2 linked regions of the Homo sapiens genome follow. The protein of the gene in region 1 interacts with the protein of each later gene in a pairwise test. Each region holds a gene or a part of one and is shown in the gene's direction. Other genes may lie near its edges.

Evidence for each region. Proteins that work in one complex are often made in the same cells at the same time.
Region 2: the proteins of CKAP5 (region 1) and SLAIN2 interact in binary tests that used the Homo sapiens proteins (3 or more experiments, as listed by UniProt).

The regions. Positions count from the first base shown.
Region 1 is NC_000011.10:46,844,166-46,847,911, reverse strand, and holds the start of CKAP5 (cytoskeleton-associated protein 5), read left to right. Parts: upstream 1-1,631; 5' UTR 1,632-1,692; intron 1,693-3,746. UniProt on the Homo sapiens protein: Binds to the plus end of microtubules and regulates microtubule dynamics and microtubule organization. Acts as a processive microtubule polymerase. Promotes cytoplasmic microtubule nucleation and elongation. Plays a major role in organizing spindle poles.
Region 2 is NC_000004.12:48,339,190-48,342,935, forward strand, and holds the start of SLAIN2 (SLAIN motif-containing protein 2), read left to right. Parts: upstream 1-2,339; 5' UTR 2,340-2,550; coding exon 2,551-2,939; intron 2,940-3,547; exon of another isoform or gene 3,548-3,746.

The DNA.
Region 1 (3,746 bases):
GTGCAGTGGCTCACGCCTGTAATCCCAGCACTTTGGGAGGCCCAGGCGGGAGGATCACGAGGTCAGCAGATCAAGACCAGCCTGGCTAACACAGTGCAACTCCGTCTCTACTAAAACTACAAAAAATTAGCCAGGTGTGATGGCACGTGCCTGTAGTCCCAGCTACTCAGGAGGCTGAGGCAGGAGAATCGCTTGAACACGGGAGGCGGAGGTTGCAGTGAGCTGAGATTGCGCCACTGCACTCCAGCCTGGGCGACAGAGCGAGACTGTCTCAAAAAAAAAAAAAAAAAAAGCAGTATTGCAGTAAACATCCTTGTACATTTTTCTTTGCATACTTGCACAGATCTGTACGATAAATTCCTCATAGTGGATTACTGGGCCAGAACTAGATTATGTACATTTTAGTAACTGTCAAATTGTCCTCCTAAAGGTTTGTACCAATTATACTCTTACCAATATTGACTTTGAGTGTCCATTTTTCCAAATCTCTTTATATTTTTAAAAACAGAGATGGGGTCTTGATAGCAAGACCCAGGTTGGTCTTGAACTCCTGGCCTCAAGCAATCCTCCTGCCTCGGCCTCCCAAAGCGCTAGGATTACAGGCATAAGCCATTGCACCCAGCCTGTTTTTCCAAATCTTGACCAACCAAAGGCTGTTGAACTTTTTCATCTCTGCCAACTTGACAATGAAAAAACATGTAATTGTTTCATTTACTTTTATCCATCCTCTCTCCATCTTTTAGCCTGTTGGGAATCTACACATTCTTTAAATCCTAGGTTAAAAATTCATCTTCCTCACAGATCCTCCCCCATCAAATTTCTCCTGTCTCTAAGCATTTATAGCTTTTCATTTATACAGTTATTACACTGCTTTGAATTTTAGTGACTAGTCTGTATGTTATATTCCTCCAACCACTGTAGATTACAAATTCCTTGGAAGTAAGGACCTGAACTCATTCACAGAAACACTGAATGTAGAGCTAAGCTAAAATTCTGGAGATCATGTTAACCAAGCCTCTCGTTTTTATAAGGGAATATTAAGCATTTGCAGGATGCGTTACAGTTCACAAAGGCTTTTCTCAGACATTCTATTAGTTATATTAACTCCTCCATTAAATTGTAAGGGAAACATCGTTATCCCATTTTACAGATAAGGAAACAACTCCAGAAGATTTACTGAGAAAAGTGATTTACTCAGAACAGTTCCAAGGTCAGAATCCAGCATCCTGGCTTCATTCGCTGTTACTTCCACGACATCTCAGCTGCCTCTGGTTTCCCTCACAGCACTTAGCTTCACAATCTCTAGGGAATGAAATGACCAAAAAAAATTGTCGGGTGTTGACAGCAGCCTGAACATCTGTAATTAAATAAAGCAAACATGCTGACGACCAAGGATGCCCGGGTCTACACACATTCTTTCGCCTTTCTTTCTGGAGTCGGCAGACTTGCCCCCGGCAGCGACCAGCGTCCCCACCCGTGCAGGCGGCGTCTGGTCCAGAGGGAAACACGGCTGCGCGCGGCCCCTTTAAGGCTGCGGGCGGCGCGTGCCCACAGGCCTTTCAAATGGACCAATAAAAGTCCGATGGGCGGTCCGTCGAGGACCAATAAAGAACGAGGACACTGCGGGGTGTGCGGCGGCCCAAGCGGTTTCAAACGGCTTAGAGCAGGCCGCTTGGTTCTGACCCAGCTGAGGTGAGTGGTCGGTGGGCCTGCCCCACCCGCGAGGCCCTCGAGTGCAGGCATCGCGCGCGCAGAGGAGCCCCTGAATCCTGGGCGGCTGGAGGTCTCCAGACGCGCGCCCCACTTGCCCCACGAACCCGGCAGGTCTGAGGCGGCGAAGCGAGCCGGAGGCCGGGGGACCTGCGGCGGGCAGGGCCGGGGGCGTGGGCGCTCGTGTGCGGCGGAGGCCGGGGTTGGGCTCCAGGTGGCCAGAGCGCGCCGCAGCGTGGCGCGGGTGGCAGCGTCCGCGGGGCGCGGGCGGTGCAGGGCCGCGCCTGGCGGCAGCGATTTACCAAGACTAGGGCGGGGGCCCCGAGAGCCGGCCCTGCTAGAGTGCCTCTCGCGTAATTGTCAAGTGAATGAATAAGTAAGCGCCTACGAGGGCTGTGGTGGTTGCGAAGGGCCTTGTCGCCCTGGAGCAAGGACAGCGGCACCGGGGCCTGGCCGCACACCTGTGTCCCTGCTGGCTTGCTGCGATGTGAACGATTCCGATCATCCACCACCCCGCCCTTAACGACTGGCTTTCTCTCTCTCAACGTGTCGGGAGCGTTCTGGTGTCCTTCCAGCCCTGGAGGTGTTGGGGAACCAATACAATAGCCAGCAGTGTGGGTTGGGCCTTGCTACTTTAAGGTCGGGCTCGGTGAACTAGATTCTTACTTTTGAGCTCTCCCCTCTACTTGTAATCGTGGTAATTGTTGAGCAGGATTGAAATGCATTCCGTTGTGTTTCTTGGATAGAAAATGATGAAAGGGTTGTTGCCAGAGTGGCTAGTGTGTGTTAGAAAATATATTCGTGTTGATGAATCTTAACAATGAGTTTTTTATTCAGCATCAATAGAGGTTGAAGTGGTTTTTGCAGAACTTGCCCCAAATTTATGCGTGGCTCTAATTTAATTCTCATGGGACCAAGGCATCAAATCTTGGCCCAGAAATGCTGCCTGTCTTATGCATAATTATAGTAATTGAAAACTCATTTTTAGAAAGGTGAGCTCCTCCTTCCTCCATTTTCATCACCCTGAAAAGTCCTTCTTTTGACCTAAAGAGCCAATAAATTAAGCTAAGAATCTTTTGAAACTTTAAGAAATTGTAGAAGACTTTGACTTCTCTGAAGTGACTGGACAAACTGTAATGCTTTTACCAAATTTAATGATATAGATAAAGGTGAAATCAATTTATTTTGCAACCATAAGTTAAATCTAGTTGGTAAACTCATGTAAAAAAATTTTTAAATAAGATTTTAGGCTGGGCGCGGTGGCTGACGCCTGTAATCCCAACACTTTGGGAGGCCGAGGCGGGCGGATCACGAGGTCAGGAGTTTGAGACCAGTCGGGCCAACATGGTGAAACCCCGTCTCTCTCTCTCTCTCTCTACTAAAAATACAAAAAATGGCTGGGCGTGATGGCGGGCGCCTGTAATCCTAGCTACTCGGGAGGCCGAGGCAAGAGAATCATTTGAACCCGGGAGACAGAGGTTGCAGTGAGCCAAGATCCCGCCATTGCACTCTAGCCTGGGTGACAGAGCGACCCTCTGTCTCAAAAAAAAGAAAAAAAATTTTTTAAAAGGCTGTTCACTGAGGCAATGGCAAGCAAAGGTATTCCGTAACAATTAACATGCCTTTTACTTTATTCTCCATTACTTTAAAGTCTTGATCAGTTTTGAATTATGTTTGAATTATGAACAGTGGGTGTGGTAATTCCATCGCAGTCTTCTACTACTGACAGTTCAGTTTTAGCAGCACCTGTTTTTTTGGTGTTTTTTGTTTGTTTGTTTGTTTGTTTTTTACCTTCACGGTTTATTGTAAAGGATGCTACAAAGCATACAGATGAAGAGAGGCGTAGGGCTTGTAGGTATGGGAGAAGGGTGTGGAGCTCTTATGCTCTCATATGAAGTGTGTTTGAATATACCAACTCTCCTGTAAACTTTTATCTTAATTCCATCAACACTCACTTTCTTTTCCTTTTTTTTTTTTTTTAAGACAGAGTCTTGCTCTTTCGCCCAGGCTAGAGTGCAGTGGTGCGATCTCAGCTG
Region 2 (3,746 bases), on another chromosome or scaffold:
ATTTATTGGAATGGTGATGACTACAGGACAAGCAGATTTAAGCGTGTGTATATGCTGTGTAGTGTGTATGTGTGTGTATGAACTGAATGTTGTTTGATACTTAAGAGGCCTATTAAACATCCAAATATCTAAATTCGTGCCTGCCATATAGTAGATATATTCAATATTTATTGAATGAAAAAGGTAAGACATTGAGTAAGGCAATAGAATTTAAAAATCCAAGTATATCTATCCACTATGAACTTCTCTATATATCTAAGTATATTCACTCTCATGTTTTGCAACCATGAGGCCTCACCAGAATCCTTTACTTTTTCATCCTGGAAGAGATACTGGAGATCCTCCAACTCACGCATTCTAAAGTAAACTAAGGACCAGAGATTAGAGAGCAGCGATCAAGGTCAAGTGCATTTATGCTACAGCTAGAACCCGACATCAGGCTTTCTGATTCTTAATTCATTGTTCCACACTACAACAGCTTTTCCTGCCCCACAAACATTAGTGCTAACTTCATAATGTCCGGTGAACTGTTCTTTTCAAGGAGTATATTTGAAGGGTTCGCCTTATAGAAACTGACTAGTTGGAATCTATTTTACAAAGCATTGAATGCAAGTGAAAACTGCTACACGTGAAGTAGTCATGATTTTTAACCCTCCGGCAACAAGTTCAGACTGGTCAGAAAGAGCAATGATATTTAGATGAGCATTACACAGATAATATATATTACTTGACAATTATGTTAGCAAACAATCACATCCTTTGACTAGGTCTGTATAGCTAGAAAAATACTCGACTTATAGTTAGCCAGCAAACTTTTAACACAAATACGTTTTTTGCTACGAATAAATAGCTACGTGGTTTTAAGTAGAACTTATAGTCTACTTAACTTTCAACAAACCAAGTATTGAGTGTCCACTGTGTCAGTGTACTAGACATGGGAAGCAAAAATGAAGTGTCCTTAAATCAAGTAAACAGACAAAAACAAACGAAAAATAATTCTTAGAGAAAAAAGCAATTTAAAAAAAAGTGCAAACACCTATTGAGAACTATTGATCACGTAGTGCTAGAATATGCAGAATAATTAGATCTTTGTGGAATTGTTGGGAAGAGGTTTCCTGAATGAGAGAGTATGGGATTTAAGAAAAGAATCAGATATGGCAGGCGGAGAATATGGCACTAGAAAAGCTAAAGGGTAGAAGCAAGTCAGTCATGGCATGAGTCCACACTCAGGTGTAACAGGACTGGATCATTGTTATTAAACTAAGGGTGGAGGCGGCAACTGAAGAAAAGCTGCAAACACAAGCCAAAGCCGTTCACAATTGACCTCTGAAGACCAACGACTGTGATAATGTGATCAAAACAAAGCATTTAAGTTTTGTTTAGGTTTCCTGCCGCATTCTAAAGGCAGACTTCACATTCTTACAATTTTCTTCATTCTTCAGTATCTGTCAGCGTGTTTAACTACTTTTAACATACAACTTTTAAAAAAGTCAAGACACACTACGAGGAACTTTTTCCGAAGGAAGTGATCCAAAGAACAGAGTGTGAGTCAATAAACGGAGAAAGGGAGTAGAGAAGCGGTTTACTATCCCCCGCTTCCGCCCCAGTGTGCTGTAAACTTTAAGTCGGGAAAACTATGTTTTAACCGATGAGATAATGCCTTTAAAAGTGCTTAGCACACTGTCTGGCCAGTAGGAAGCACTCAAGAAATTATGATTATTTTGACCTTAGACCTCTCTTAACTGTCTGAAACTGGGGTTTCTTATTTTCAGGGGAAGAAACAGGACACAGGCAGTCTAGAGGCTCCTGCCAGCCGAGACAATCTCCAATTAAAAGTCGGCATCGATTAAATATTTGCTGAACAAAGTAAACTGTCTCTCCACCGCCGGGCTGAGCGCCCACTCGAGATCCGGCCCGGAACAAGGGCGAGACTGGCCCGCGGGTCCCACACTCCCTGTAAGGGGTGGAGAACACGCCCACACGCCCAGACCAACAGGCGAGGCTGTTCGAGGACCTTGTTAGCCACCTCAGCCCCGCCCGCCGCGAGCCTTCTGCTGGCCTCCCGTTCTGCAGGGACCCTCCCTAGCCAGCCCGGCCGCGTCCCACATCCGCCGACACGCCCCTTCCGGCCTAATCCCCGCCCCTCAAGCACCGGCCCCGCCCCATAGGCCCCGTCCGTGGCCCCGCCCCGCCGCGAGCTGGCGCCGGGTCCTCTCAGCGCCCGCCGGCGGCCGCGTCCACCCCCGACGCTCTGAGGTCACCGACTGGGCCGGCCCGCGGGGGGCGGAGGGACGGAGGGAAGATGGCGGCAGGGGCCGGATATTGGCGCCGCCTCCCCCAATCCCGGAGCCGGCGCAGATGAGGCAGTTCGGCTGGGGCCAGCGGCGCTTTGGAACCCGAGGTGGGGGGACCCTGGCGGTGGGGCCTGGTCCTGCTATATGCCGGCGCCTCGGCTAGAGTGAGCGGCGGCGACGCCTCTTTCCTCCGTCTCTTTCCCTGTCGCTGCGAGAGCGAGCGGGCGGCGGAGGCGGCGGCGGCGGCGGGGCCGGGATGGAGGACGTTAACTCCAACGTGAACGCGGACCAGGAGGTGCGGAAGCTGCAGGAGCTGGTGAAGAAGCTGGAGAAGCAGAACGAACAGCTGAGGAGCCGCTCGGGGGCCGTGCAGGGCGCCGGCTCCCTTGGGCCCGGCAGCCCGGTTCGGGCCGGCGCGTCCATTCCCTCCTCCGGCGCGGCGTCTCCTCGGGGCTTCCCCTTGGGCCTCAGCGCCAAGTCGGGCGGCGGGCCCGGGTCGGGCCCGAGGCGGACGAGTAGCGAAGAGCTGCGGGACGCCACCTCCTTGCTAGCGGCGGGCGAGGGCGGCTTGCTGGACGAGGTGGAGCCGCTGCGGCCCGACGAGCTGGAGCGCCTGTCAGGCTGGGAGGAGGAGGAGGAGAGCTGGTGAGCGCGAGGCGCCGGGCAGGAGCTGGGCGGGGACGGGCCCGGGGGCGGAGAGCGTCCTCTGAGGGTCCCTCTGGTCGGGCGCCTCGCTTTGTGTAGCCGGGTCCGCTCTCCTGTGGCGACTTGTGGTTTTCTTGCTTTGGCAGAGGGAACGTCAGCTGGAGTTGGGGGTTCGAGGCGTGCGCAAGTAACAGGGTTGTAGCTCGTTGTCCTTTGGATTGTGGACCTTCTGAGTGCTGGACCCTATTGGGGTCTGTGGGTTGGGGCAGCTTGAGAAGGGCTGTTCGCCTGGGGAGGAGTCGGAGGTGGGAAACTGCTTTGTAGGCAGGGATCCTGCTTTGTGTAAGATACTGGCTTTCGGATGGTGGCCCTGGGCATTCTGGATGTAGGAGAGGGGTCTGCTTGATGAGGTATCACCAGGTGTGGGGGTCAGGGGCAGACCAGAGTCGTCTACGTCTATGCAGCGGTTGGTGTTTGGGACCCATTTCTGGCGGGGATGGGGAGACCGTATGAATCAGCACTCCCCTTTGGGTAGTGGGGTAAACCTTGCTTTGTGTGAAGAGAGGGCAGAGGATGGTGCTGCTTTTTTTTTTTTTTTTTTTTTTTTGTTACTCTGTGTGAAGAGTCAAGGGTGGAACGAGCCCTGGCTCTTATTTTCTAAAACAAGAATTGAGTCTGGCGTTTTGCAGAGCTCTGAATTGACAGTTATCACATCCATCTTTCATTTCCACGTCCTTCTAGGGGCAGAGAAAAAGAGTCCTATTTAAAAATTTAAACCAAAGCTATATTGTCATAAGCCACTTCTTG